Homo sapiens: one gene and its partners. The protein of the gene in region 1 purifies or fractionates together with the protein of each later gene. This does not show direct contact. Each region holds a gene or a part of one and is shown in the gene's direction. Other genes may lie near its edges.

Region 1 (4,183 bases):
AACAAATTCACAAGAGAAAATAAAACTGGCAAAAAATAACCATGTGAAAAAACAATCCAGCTAACTAGTACTCTAAGAAATGCAAGTACAAAAGATGAGAAATAACCATTTCAAACTAAATTTTTTTTTTAAAAAAGTCTGTGTTGTCAAGTATATGGAAAATGGGCATTTCTCAGGGAAAACTAATACGTTTTCCTGGAAGATAATTTAGAAAACATTTAAAAAATATATTCCTTTTATACAGCCATAAATAATCATGTTTAAAAGAATATCTAATAAAATGGAAGAAAATTCACAAGATCGTGTTAAGTGAAGAAGGCAGAATACATCTTCGCAAGGCATTATTCCAATTATGCCAGACATGCCATGGATATACGTAGAGAAAACACCGGAGGCAACATACCAAAATATTAAATGTAATTGACTCTACGAGGTAAAACTGAGTTTTATGTTCCCCTATTTCCTATTTATGCAATAGATTTAAAAAGTATTTTTACGACTAATTATACAATTCAAAAATTGCCTGTGTTGAAAAGCATGAAAGTACATGAAATTGTACTACCCTGGAAACCCCAGGAAGTGTTTAGTTTGGAAAGCCAGGGCCACCTGCTAGTGGGTGAGTCATGGGCACAGGCTCGCACCTGCCACCGCAGACGCCACACAGGCTGCTGAGCCTTTCCAAGCGAAATGCCCCACGTGCGCCAACGGCCACCTCGGCCGTCGCCCCACGCTTGGCCCGCAGCCAGAGGAAGCCCAGCAACTTCTGCTCTTTCTTAATTTCTAGAAAAGAGTGAAGAGAGGCCTTTTCAAAGTTCGCAGGATCGGGCCTTTTTGTGCTCCACTTTGGAACAAATCGGAAGCTAGGGCCTTCCAGGTGCGCCACCGCCGTCCCGGGACCGCCGCGGCCGCAAGCGTCCGCACTGCGGCCGGGGTGCGCGGCCTGAGAAAGGCCCGGGCAACGACGCTCCGGGGGCTTGCCGGAGCCCTCTTTGAAGTCTCCCGACGGGCTCCCAGCCTCTCATAAGGCAGCTAAGGCCGAACACCCCGGTGACCATAGGCCAGCCACGCGGTCGCCCGGGGACGCGCGTGCTCCGCAGGGACAAAGGGTCGGGAAACTTGAGCTCCGGCCAGTCCCAGAGAAACCCGGGCTGGTGGTCGCCATGGCAACGGAGTCCGACCCTCCGAGGCCTGCCGCCCTGGCGCGGCAGTGGCTTGAGTGACCCGGCCCGCTCTTGGCGGGGGCGCCCGCGCCCCGGCCCCGGCAGTCCCTCCCCGCCCCCAGGCCGCGGCCGCGGGAGCCGGCGACTGACCCTCGGCAGCTCCTGTAGTCACGTGGCGCTGGGAACCCGGCGGGGGGAGGTTGGGGACGGGCCTGGCAGTTGTGAACTCGAACCTGCCGCTGTCGCCGCGGCGGGGCGGGGAGCGAGAGTGGGCCGCGGAGGCCGGCCTTCGGGCTCCATGGACGGGCGCCGCGTCCCTGCACAGCCCGCCGCAGAGGTACGGCCGGGGCAGGGGCGCGGGGCCACCGCGGGCCCGCGGGGGGCCGCTCCACCTGCGGGGCGCGTGACCGTGAGTGTGCGCGACCGTGTGTGAGTGCGCGGGGGGGGACGCTGCTGGATCTGCGGGGGTGGGGGAGCGCACCTGCGCACAGGCTCCGCGAGCTGCGCCGTGCGTGGGACCCGAAATGGCTCACTCGCAAGAACGGGACCCGTGTGCCCGGGAGCGTGGACGGAGGACACGCATCAGTACAAAAGGGCGGTGTGGGGCTTCTGCCACCCGCGGCCAGCCGCGATGCGGAAGGGGATTCTGACGGAGTCGTGGTCACACCAGCTGGCCCTGCGCAGCCCCATGGGAAATAGGCCTGGAATTCCTGTCGGGAGGAGGCTGGGGGAAGGGGAGCCAGCAGGGATTCCAGAGTTCCTGCCATAGGCCGGCCTTTGGCCATCAGGGAAAGCCCAGACTCTGGCCACAGAATGGAGAATTCGTTCCGTGACCTTACCAGGGAAGAAAGTGACCCCGAAAGACAGCAGTGTGCTTCCTTGTTGAAGGGGCACATTCATTTATTAATCCAATGTCCATTAAGGTCACTCTGCCAGGCAGGATGTGGGGCTTATGGCTGGTGCGTGTGGCTTTGTGGGGGGAGGGGTTGTGGCTGGTGAGGACACAAAGCTGACTGCCCTAGAGGAGCTCAGAGCCTCACTTCTGTTTTCTCTTCCCTCCCCACAGGTAAGGCTGGCCTCTCTGCAGTCAGAGGTCTGAGCTCTGCCATGGGGATAGGGGTGTCTTTATTACTGCAGTTTTCTCTAACACCTGGGGGCTACCGGAGTGTGGGCCGAAGCAGGCGCTGCAGCCGCGGAAGTATCCCCAGGAACATCCCCAAGAGGAGCTGGAAAAAGCCTCATCCCCAGCTCTGCAGTCTCCAGGGTAGAGTCTGGCCTTTGCTGTGCTCCCAAACCACGCCACAACAGGGGTGCACGGGCGTCCCCATCCCGGCGGAAGGAAATGGCCCTTTCTCATATCCTGGGGTCTTCCCTGTGCACAGTCTGACACTGGGAATGAGTGACCTTTGTGTTCCCTGAGAAGAGAGAGTGCGCTCTAGGGAATTTAGAAGGATGTGTCTGGAGCTTGTGAGCAGGCACAGAAGGGCCCTTAGGAGCCTAACTGCTTCCTTCCTCCTTCCGCGGAGGAGGCTCCTGTGCAGGAATCTGGGCTCCCCTGAGCTGTGGAAGAGCTGAACATGGGGCAGCCCCTGGCGAGGTTGGGGCAGGACCGGGCAGGGGACTGAGATTGCAGTCTCATCTTCCCTCCCCTTCTATTGCCCCAGTAATCTCCAGCACCCCGAGGGAGGCAGAGCCGGTGATCAGGCCCCGAGGGCAGCAGGCTGTGGGTGTTCCTTGGATTCAGGGAGAGCCTTCCTTCCTGCAATGTCCTAATTTGTGTGGGTGGAAGAGGGCAGGCGGGCAGAATGGGGGCACAGTCTGGGCAGGCGGTGGTCTGGCGTTAGACTGCCGGGAGTAGCACCCAGGGCTCTGCTCCTGTTCCCCGAGAAGGGCTGTTCTCACTTGTCCTCCAGCCTCCTACGGAGACTGCAGTTAGTGATGCTGAAAGTGCCTCCCCTGTGGGGCTAGGAATGAAAAGCTATAGACACCTTTTTCTCTGAGATCTTTGCAAACCCAGGCGCTTTAGAGGAAAGAACACTGGCCTGGGAGTTTAAAGACCTGTTCCCTAGTCTTGATTCTGCTGTTGGCTTACTGTGTCACCTTGGGCAGGTCTCGTCATCTTTGATGTCTCACAGTTGCTTCATCTGTTAAACAGGGAGCTCAGTGTCTGTTTGTCCAGCTTCTCAGAGTTGCTGTGCAGCTCGGATGTGGCATAGGAAACAGCAGACACAGGGAGAGGGCAGCATAAGGCACTGTAGGGAGCAGTGGCCACATTTTCTGGTGAGTCCTGTGGCAGGAATGTTTGTGCATTCAGCACTGGAGCATTTACTCCCTGTCTGACACTGGGGTAGCTGCCATGAGGGGGATTCTAGTATCAGAGTCCCTCCCTTCTGGAAGTTTCCAGGGCAACAAAGACATAAGACAAACATCCTTGAAATGTTATCTAAAAACCCAAGATTGAAATAATACATACCACACAAGGAAACAGGAGAGTAGTCTAGCTCCATGTCCGGGGCTCTAGGGGTTCATAGATGGCAGCTCCTGTCCGGGGCTGAGGTTGGGAGGGGAGAAACAGGGGCAGAGTGAGTTGGTCTCTGGAGTGACTGTGCTTTTCCACCCTCAGCAGAGGAAGAACCGATGCTGGAACGTCGTTGCAGGGGCCCCCTGGCCATGGGCCTGGCCCAGCCCCGACTCCTTTCTGGGCCCTCCCAGGAGTCACCCCAGACCCTGGGGAAGGAGTCCCGCGGGCTGAGGCAACAAGGCACGTCAGTGGCCCAGTCTGGTGCCCAAGCCCCAGGCAGGGCCCATCGCTGTGCCCACTGTCGAAGGCACTTCCCTGGCTGGGTGGCTCTGTGGCTTCACACCCGCCGGTGCCAGGCCCGGCTGCCCTTGCCCTGCCCTGAGTGTGGCCGTCGCTTTCGCCATGCCCCCTTCTTAGCACTGCACCGCCAGGTCCATGCTGCTGCCACCCCAGACCTGGGCTTTGCCTGCCACCTCTGTGGGCAGAGCTTCCGAGGCTGGGT
Region 2 (2,303 bases), on another chromosome or scaffold:
AAATTTAGTAGCCTTAATAAACATTTATTAGCTCCTGAGTGAGTGGCTTGGCAGTTTGGGCTGTGTTCAGTGTGGTGGTTCTTATCTCATCTGGGCCCTCGTGTGGCTGAAGTGAGCTGGCAGATCAGCTGGGGACTGGCTGGTCTCAGATGGCCTCGCCCGCCTGTCAGGTGGTTGGCTGGGCAACTGGGCCACACGTTCCAGCATCTAGCAGGCTGACCCAGGATTCTAGACATCATGGCTGAGTTCCAAAAACCGCAAGAGAAGACAAGCCCAGTATGCGAGTGCTCTTGAGGATATTGCTATGACGTATCTTTTGGCCAAAGTAAGTCACATGGCTAAGCCCAAATTCTTCTTAACAGGAGGAGCTTCAAAATATGGCCATATTTAAAAAATCTACCTCAGGACTCATTTCACTTGCCAACTCAGAACTTTTAGTAGCAGCTGCCTGGAGTGCCTTTTGAGGATCTGCAGCAATTTTCAGACTGTTTGGAAATACTGACATGATAGTTTGGCAGTTTCTCTTATGAGCATGGAATTCAAGTGTGGGCACGTGAGCGTCAGGTATTTGCCATCCCTGGCCAGGTTGACCCGTAAGGTCATAACCTGCCCCATAGGATGTTATATGCAGTAGGCCTGTCTGACAAGACCACAGAAATAGAGAAGGCAAAGCAGAGCAAAAGATTCTGAGCCAGGCATCCTTGGTTTTCATCCCAACCAGATCATTGATTGATTGAGGTTTTAGGCAAATCAAAATCCCTCCACCAGTAGCCAGATTCTTCATAATAAACTTCCTCCATAACAGTAAACCATTTCCTGAACACCTGCTGTTAAAAAGCACATTTTACATTTACTTAATCTCCACAACCACCCTCAGTAGGTGTAGTAAGGACTTCTGGTTACAAGTTACAGAAACTGAATTCAGTCCTGCTTAGTGGGAGGAAGTTTATTGGCTCACAAATTGTAAAGTCCAGGGATCTTCAGACATGGGGACTTGGGTTCAAAAGCTGCCATCGAGAATCCGGTTAGCCAGGCATGGTGACACGTGCCTGTAGTCCCCGCTACTTGGGGGACTACAGTGGGAGATCATTTGCACCTAGGAGGTTAATGCTGCGGTGAGCCATGATCCTGCCGCTGCACTCCAGCCTGGGTGACAAAGCGAGACCCCAACTCAAGGGGAAAAAATCTGGTTTTCGGGCAGGTTCCAAGAAGTGGTAGAGCATGGCCATAGGGCCTGTGAGAATAGAGGGACAGAGGGGAGAATCCCCAAAAGGAGAGCAAGGCTTGGCTAACAAAAACAGGCATCCACTGTGTGGTTATGTCTATTCTATAGATTTTGTAGATGAGGTTTAAAAGCATGGCCCCAAGTAAAGGTGGCATCTCTATCCTATCCTCGCCTTTATCTAAACTCTGTGACCGATCAATAGCATATGATGGTGGTGGTGCTCTGCCAGTCTCCCAGTCCCAGACTGAAGCACTAGCAGCTTCCACTTATTATCTCTTGGGACTCTAGCTCTTGGGACCCAACCACCATGCTGTGAAGCAGCCCAGGCCACACAGAGAGGCCACGTGTACATGTTCAGCTGACAGCAGTATCAAATGTCAGACATGAGAGAGGAAGGCTTCAAGATGACTCCAGCCCAGCCACCGTCTGAGAACAAAGTAAGAACTGCCTCACTGATGCCATTCAAAGCCCAGCACCATGAGAGATAATAAAACGTTGTTTGAAGATGCTAACTTTTGGAGTGATTTGTTGTATCAGTAGATAACCAGGACACAGGCCCACAGAGGTTCAGTAGCTTGCTGTGCTTCTCAGGGGGCTAGGTTAAGAGTATAGGTTTTGTTGCTGGGCGCGGTGGCTCACGCCTGTAATCCCAACACTTTGGGAGGCCAAGGCGGGCAGATCACGAGGTCAGGAGACCGAGACCATCCTGGCTAACACGGCGAAACCCCGTCTCTACTAAAAATACAAAAAAATTAGCCGGGTGTGGTGGCGGGCGCTTGTAGTCCCAGCTACTTGGGAGGCTGAGGCAGGAGAATGGTGTGAAGCTGGGAGGTGGAGCTTGCAGTGAGCCAAGATCGCGCCACTGCACTCCAGCCTGGGCGACAGAGCAAGACTCCGTCTCTTGCTGACTCTTACCCATATGCCTGCATCTGTCTACCCTCTTTTCTATGTACTTGCTCCCTGGATGACTTCATCCGTGGCTTCAGACTCCACTCATGGCTCCATAATCTTCACCTCTAACTCATTTTCCTCCCAAGAACACCAGGGGAGTAGGTACAGATGCCCATCTAATAACTGT
Region 3 (3,566 bases), on another chromosome or scaffold:
GGTCCTAAGGCAACCTCAAGGAAGGAGTTACCTGTTTATCTGGGGAAAGATCTGCAGAATCAAGGAAGACTTCCCATAGCATTGTTTTAAAAGATGAAAACAAGGCTGGGTGTGGTGGCTCACACCTGTAATTGCAGCATTTTGGGAGGCTGGAGCAGGTGGATCACAAGGTCAAAAGATCAAGACCATCCTGGCCAATGGTGAAACCCCATCTCTACTAAAAATACAAAAATTAGCTGGGCATGATGGTGTGTGCCTGTAATCACAGCTTCTCAGGAGACTGAGACAGGAGAATCATTTGAACCAGGGAGTCAGAGGTTGCAGTGAGCTGAGATTGTGCCACTGCACTCCAGCCTGGTGACAGAGCAAGACCCCAGCTAAAACAAAAAAAAAAGAAAAATGAAAATAAATTTGTCATAATAGTGGATGGAAACATTTTAGATGTTAAGAAGACATTGTACACTAATAAAGGTGTCAGTAGTAATTTTGGAAATCGTTTGTAAGGTACTATTTTTGCAGAAAACAGGAGGCAGGAGAGACCCAGTGGGTCAAACAAGAGGATTTTGTTTAGGTGCACACCAGCTCAGCGGATTTGCATCAAAAAGCTGAGCCCTGAACAAAGACAGGGCTTGGCTTATATAGGCAAACTTATAGAAGCAGAACAAAGGCAGTTAATCATATAGTGACAGTTTTGCAACCACTGCATAGCTTGCGACCTTGCAGCTGCATTGAGGGAAAACAAGAATTTGCAAAATATATGCATTTGTAAAAATAGCTATGAATAAATGCTGAGGGGGAGGGGAGATGGTAAAGGAATTTGTTTTCTTAACCTTGCTCTGGGATGTCTGGAGCCCATACCTGTGGGCTCTGGCTTCTCAGACAGGGTCACCATGACCTTTCCTGGGCCTGCTTGTTACTATCCTTAGAGTCAGACTAGCTAAGTGCAGGAAAACTTGTTTCTCTTTAAAACTAAATTTCCTTTTCTTTACATTTACTGCTTCACTATTAGGAAGTGAACAACATACTGAGTTACCTTATATGTTTCTACTGTATTTTAAAGTTGTGTTTCTGGTGGTTTTGTTCATTTATGTTGGGTGGATGAATTTGTGAGTGAATCACATCAGGTGTCTCCCCAAGTGGTTTGTTGAAGTTTTGGAGAATTATTTCCTAAGTAACTATTTCATGAAAGACTAAACACTCAGTTTATGAAATAAAATAAAATGTTGTCTTCAATCTATTTTTATAAAGGCAATAGTTTTTAACTGTTCTAAGTGGTTCATTTTAACTGAATATATGGATTTCTCAACAGAACAAGACTTAAAGCTGACATCAGAGGAAGAGTCACAAAGGCTTAAAGTCAGTGAAAATAGCCAGCCAGAGGCATGGAAAATTTTAAGTTTAAATTTTTGATTTAATGTTGTTTTCTTTGCTTGAATAATATTAGATAGTCCAAATGAAATTACCTTTCAGACTAGGTTTTAAGAATCAATAGATTCTTTTTTTAAGAATTTTTTAATAGATTCTTAAAATTTATTTTAATAAATTCAGCAATCTCATTAACAGAAGAATTAATAAATTCTAACTTGACATTTGATATTTAGCTTAAAAACGTAACCACTATAAAATTTAAAATACTCTTATTTTATGGTATTCTTATTTAAAATATTCTTATCTGCCTTTTTGATTAGCTTATAGCTAATCTTTCCTTTTGGAATAGAGGCAAAAACATATTCCAGACCTTTGTTTGTTCTTTTATTTTTACAACACCCTAACATGATAAAGTACCATCAATTATTGGATTATATTATTAAGCAATAGAACTGTGAACAATGTAACACTGAAGGTCCCTGAGCTGGATTCATGGTTAAAGAATAATCACGGCCAGTGATTGAAAATCTGCAGTTTTATATTGTCAGTCACAGATACCAAGGTTAAAGACATATTCTGCCTTGTGGTCTCTCACTGACCTCAGCATTTCTGTTCAGGGAGGGAACCAGGTCATAAAAGCAACCCAACTGCCTATTACAAGAATCATATCTTGCAGAATGGGACATTTGGTGTTAGTGCACAAACACAATAACCTTCTACCTTATTTCAGTTGCAGAAAATCAGTACAGATTATTAAAAAATTTTTATCCACTGTAATTAGTACACCTTAGAATATATTAGAACTGGACTTAAGCAGATCATCTAGATACATAACACTATCATATTACAGCATATAATTTCAATTAAAATTTAAGAATTTGCATTTCTTCCTCTTTGGTGTTGATTTCAGCTCCTAATAATTTAAAGCGTGCCTACAATCCAATTAGGAATCTTTTTAAAAAGCACTTCAGTGCACTATAGGGGCTCACTAGTTAGGGTTTCATGAGATATACTCTTTTCAAGTGAGGAAGCCCTTGGAACACTACAAATCATCTGCTAATTCATTTTTGGTAGATTTAACACATAACAAATTAAGTTTAGTCCAAACAAATGGTGACAAAGTTAAGTTTGCTGGTTCATGTTTTTATTCTCCCTTTGTCTAAGGTGAATTATTTTCCCATGTTAGTCAGAAGCCAATGATGTGGCAGTAGCTAAACATAGATTAAAAAGTTAATTCTTAATTTTAATTATTTATTTATTTAATTATTTTAAGTTAAATTTTATTTTATTTTCTAATTTTTCATGTCCATACTTGATTACTTAAGAATAAAATTATTTTAACATGCATTCCAAAAGAGGAGACATACACGGAAATACAACAAGCAAATTAACCTTCTATTTTTGCATCTGCAGAAAATGTCTCAAGAACCAGAAATAAATAAGGACTGTGATAGAGAGGTATACCTTTATGTTCAAATGTTTCTGTGGAATTAGATTTTTATGTTATGCTGTTTAACAAAGTGTAGTAAGTGTACGCATACATGATCCTATCATGTAAGTAGCATAAATCACCAGTGAAAAATTTAATATTTAACTCAGAAAGAATTCTGTACATTGAGTTTTCAAGAGATACAAACCCTAGAGAGATTCTTTCATTATTATGGAACAATCCTGAATGGTGCCATAAAATGCTAGGTAATGCCTCTTTAGGAGATTTGGACCAATCCTTTTATCTTTCTTGGTTTTAGTCTGATTATCACTAGATAATGTGGCTAAAGAAGATAATTACTTATTCTTTGTAATTTCCAGCTGGAAAATTGTATAGCTATTGAATGTGAAATTTGGGGAGCATCTAATTTTCTGGAATTCCATGCTTGCACCTCAGCAGTTTCACTCTGCTCCTTGTGTTGTGGCAAACTTTGGTTTTCATGTTTCAGTGAGCACCATCATGTTTTTGATATCCAGGAACCAAATGAAAAAAGAACGATCAAAGGCAGTGGGAGAGGAGAATATCTTAGTGCAGAAAAGGGCCATCTTCCTTTCTATTCCTGAAGCCCCCCAGTGTCTCATCCTCTACATCTGAGTGTTTAATGTAAAATCTAGGTGGTAAAGACAGAAGACACATTTTGTGTCTATGTCGTTTTATTTTTGTGTTCCCACGAGTCAAATGGGGTAAATTCATATATAAGATTCTGAAG
Region 4 (3,566 bases), on another chromosome or scaffold:
TATAGACTGGAAACTTCCAAAATGTTTGAAATAAGTCAGTGTTAAGAGTAAATAGACATCAAATGAATGCCTTAGGTACTTTCTGTCGTGAGAGAAGTGTATAAACTTTATTTTATTGATGGTCATTCATATGTTGTTTGTCTAGATGCCTTTGTTGCATATTTCCTGGAACACTATCTTTCGTTTGAATTCTGCCAATTAGTTTGAGAAAATTTTTGTTACATTGGTATATGTTAAGTTGAGGTTTTGAATAATTTTAGTATAATTATAAATGTATTTTAAATAGTGCTTATTTGATTTTGAAATACTTGAAAAATGATGAATTTTAAACTATTTTGTTTGTATGAAAGGCTGAAAAACAATCAGCTAATTTACGGGCAGAACGTTTGGAAAAAGAGCTACAATCAAGCAGTGAACAAAATACCTTTTTAATTAATAAATTGCATAAAGCTGAACGAGAAATAAATACATTGTCCAGTAAAGTAAGTTGTTTTATGTTTCTGTTTCATTCTTTAGAATGTTTGTTAGTATATAATGATAAATTTTATTTTTAATAATTGATTTCTTTATACTGAAATGTTTTATTATATCATTCTGCCTTCTAAGAAATAAATACATTGATCAGTAGAGTATGTTATCTTATGCCTCTATTTCATTCTTTAGAATGCTTGATACTGTACAGTGACAAATTTTGTGTTTAGTTCTCTGTATTGAAATATTTTTAATCCTTTATCATTCTACCTTCCAAATACATGCAGAATCTGATCAATTCTTATGACATCCACTGTGACTATTCCAGTCCAAGCCATGATTTTTCTAGGCTCCATTTCTGTGCTAGGTTGCTAACTGGTCTTTCTGCTTTCTACCCATTCAGAGCTCTGTATGATCTGGATCCTGCAGTCTTTTCACAGCCATGACCTGTATTTTTCCTCCTGTTCACTTTGCTCCCTTTGGCCTTCTCACTCTTTGAGCAAACTCACATCTTGCTCAGGGTTTCTGCACTTGTCTGAGTTTGGCTCAGTCTTCCCTCACGTATCCACATAACTTGCTTCTTCACCACCTAGATGTTGCCTAACCAGGGAGGCTTTCCTTGTCTTCACATTGTAAAACAGCATCTTCCTTCTTCCTCTGTCTTTCTCTCTGTCTTCCTTACCTGCTTCATAGCTCTTAATACTATCTGATATAGTTATTTGGTTTTTATTTTTTGGTCTCTCCTTTTCTTTCCCACCACCTTCCCCTCAACCCAATGTAAGCTCCAAGAGAGCAGGGACATTGTTTTCATCACTACTGCTTTTCCAGCTTCTAGAATGGTGCCGGCACATAGTAGGTACTCAAATATTTCTTCAATGAATAAATTAGTAGTAGCAGCATGATCTACATTTATATTCTCCTTAACAGACTGGATTCAAATTCTGATTTTTTCATTACTAAAAAAAGCTGTGTGACCTTGGGCAGTTCACTGTCTCTCTGAAACTTAAGTGCCTTTGTCTATGCAATGGGACTAATACCTACATTACAGAGTTGTGGCAAAAATTAAATGTAGCTGATGATGAAAATGATAATAGCAGTGATTATACACTGGTGATATCCTTAAATAAGAAAATATTGTAACATAAAGAATACAGAATTTTTAGTCCATTGACTAGTCTGTGTCTCACTGTCTCAATAACTATGTGTAACCTAAGGCAAGTTACCTAATATCATTAGGATCCAATTTCCTTATATCTGTAAGAACCCTTCCAGCCTACTAAGACTGTGTAAGAACTACTAGGAAATAATTTGATTGCCTCCTGATTAACTGTAAGTAGATTATATATTCAACAGATACACATTGAAAGCTTATAACTATAGAGTATACAAAAAAATAGATACAAAACACAAGTAAATTCAGGATATGGGGAGTTTCCATGCTTTTCTTCCAATTCCAGTATAAATTATTTTCAATTTTGTGAAATAATATTGAGTACGTAGTATTTGCAGCACATTGTTCTTGACCTGAGTAGCCAGACTACACTGCTGGAATAATTGGAACCACAGATGTCGCAATAGGACATGGGATGTGCTGGCTTCTGCTGTGGCTTCTCTCTTGGGGGGGCCACCAAGTATAATACTTTTCATGCAGTACATTTTACCTGAGCTCCCTAGCTCACCTGTGTGCTGACCCTGATTTTTCTTCTTTTTTTCCATATATATATACTCTTCCCTATTGCTCTTTCCTCTTAGAGTTAGAGCCTAGGTGATTTCTCCTACTCCGCTGAAGAAAGAACAGCAATCTAGTATAGTATTTATTTCTCTGTGCTTGTTTATTAATACACATTGCTAAGAGTTGCCTGTCTTTTTAAAGGCACACTTGCCTTATTTTGCATATAAATGGAGTATTAAATACCATCCTTCAACTTTAAACAAACCAAGTTTCATTTGAAGTCTTGTATGTAAAGATTCCATTGGAAGGGTAGATTTTAAAATAATATTTCAAACATGACTGCCACAGTTTTCTTTGCAACTTGAAGTTTTCATCAACATTTTGCAATTCTAGCAAATGGTTGTTTGCAGTGCAAAGGAACACCTGGGGTGTGTTTGTCTTAGTTACTCAAATTCATAAATGTTTGTCAGATTTTAGAACAAAGTTATGTCAGTGTGAGTATCAGTGTCTTGGATTAAAAGGTATTACCAAAGATGGCCTGAAAATGATGACCTTAAAGAGATTTCACATTCAGTGAGGTAAATTCTTCTAGTTCCCTCATAAGGTTTTTCATTTTCAGAATGCCAATAAAAGGTAGTTTTAAGAAAGCCACCCAACAGAGTTGTCCTTATTTACCTAAATTAATTGGGTAATTACATCTCAGAACTTTGAAAAAGATCAAGATTTAAGTACCATCTCTTTGGAATCTGTATCCAGAGCTTCTTAGGTAATACATATTGTCAATTATATTTCCATTTCTTGCTTATTTATGCTGTGCTCTTGTGTGTCTTTCTGTGAGTATGTGTACTTTAACAGATACTGACCCCCTGTAAAATGCCCAGTTTTGCCAGTTTTGACATTTATTAAAGTTTTGTTAGTAATATCTGAATACTTCCATTGTGTCAAAACATAAAGCAAATTCACAACATAAAGGCCAGAATCTATATGGCAAACATTCTGTGAAGAACAGGGTGACTTGGTCCAGTGGAGCTTTAGGAGACCATGAATTGCTTGAAATTTTATGCAACATTTTAACATGAGCATTTTATTTAAAAAAAAAATCCCTAATTTTCCTAGGATTTGGGACTTGATCACAAAGAAGATTAAGAACCAAGGATCTAGGGGCAGAAAGAAACTTTACTGTAACATTTGGAATTTGGTTCAGATTACTCATAGAAAAGTGCTATTATTTGTCATTACTGGGTAATACATTTTCATACGTTAAGTAAAATTCCTTTTAGTATATTTTTAGGAAATTAACAGTGTTCATATAAGTGATGCATCAGTGATGTTAGGATAATAGAAATAAGGCAATAAAGAAAAACTTTAGATCCATAAATGAGTACATTTGAATGCAGAGAGGACAGGTAAATTGCTTGAGCAT

The links.
Region 2: the proteins of REPIN1 (region 1) and RALY purify together in Homo sapiens (affinity purification with mass spectrometry; one large-scale study listed by BioGRID and IntAct). This does not show direct contact.
Region 3: the proteins of REPIN1 (region 1) and POTEB3 purify together in Homo sapiens (co-immunoprecipitation; one large-scale study listed by IntAct). This does not show direct contact.
Region 4: the proteins of REPIN1 (region 1) and CEP83 purify together in Homo sapiens (affinity purification with mass spectrometry; one large-scale study listed by BioGRID and IntAct). This does not show direct contact.

What each region holds. Positions count from the first base shown.
Region 1 is NC_000007.14:150,367,445-150,371,627, forward strand, and holds the start of REPIN1 (DNA-binding protein REPIN1), read left to right. Parts: upstream 1-1,377; 5' UTR 1,378-1,458; coding exon of another isoform or gene 1,459-1,497; exon of another isoform or gene 1,498-1,589; intron 1,590-1,645; exon of another isoform or gene 1,646-2,226; 5' UTR 2,227-2,267; coding exon 2,268-2,424; exon of another isoform or gene 2,425-3,783; coding exon 3,784-4,183. UniProt on the Homo sapiens protein: Sequence-specific double-stranded DNA-binding protein. Binds ATT-rich and T-rich DNA sequences and facilitates DNA bending.
Region 2 is NC_000020.11:34,083,148-34,085,450, forward strand, and holds the end of RALY (RNA-binding protein Raly), read left to right. Parts: 3' UTR 1-1,737; downstream 1,738-2,303. UniProt on the Homo sapiens protein: RNA-binding protein that acts as a transcriptional cofactor for cholesterol biosynthetic genes in the liver. Binds the lipid-responsive non-coding RNA LeXis and is required for LeXis-mediated effect on cholesterogenesis.
Region 3 is NC_000015.10:21,419,934-21,423,499, reverse strand, and holds part of POTEB3 (POTE ankyrin domain family member B3), read left to right. Parts: intron 1-1,309; coding exon 1,310-1,380; intron 1,381-2,781; coding exon 2,782-2,826; intron 2,827-3,566.
Region 4 is NC_000012.12:94,372,802-94,376,367, reverse strand, and holds part of CEP83 (centrosomal protein of 83 kDa), read left to right. Parts: intron 1-350; coding exon 351-482; intron 483-3,566. UniProt on the Homo sapiens protein: Component of the distal appendage region of the centriole involved in the initiation of primary cilium assembly.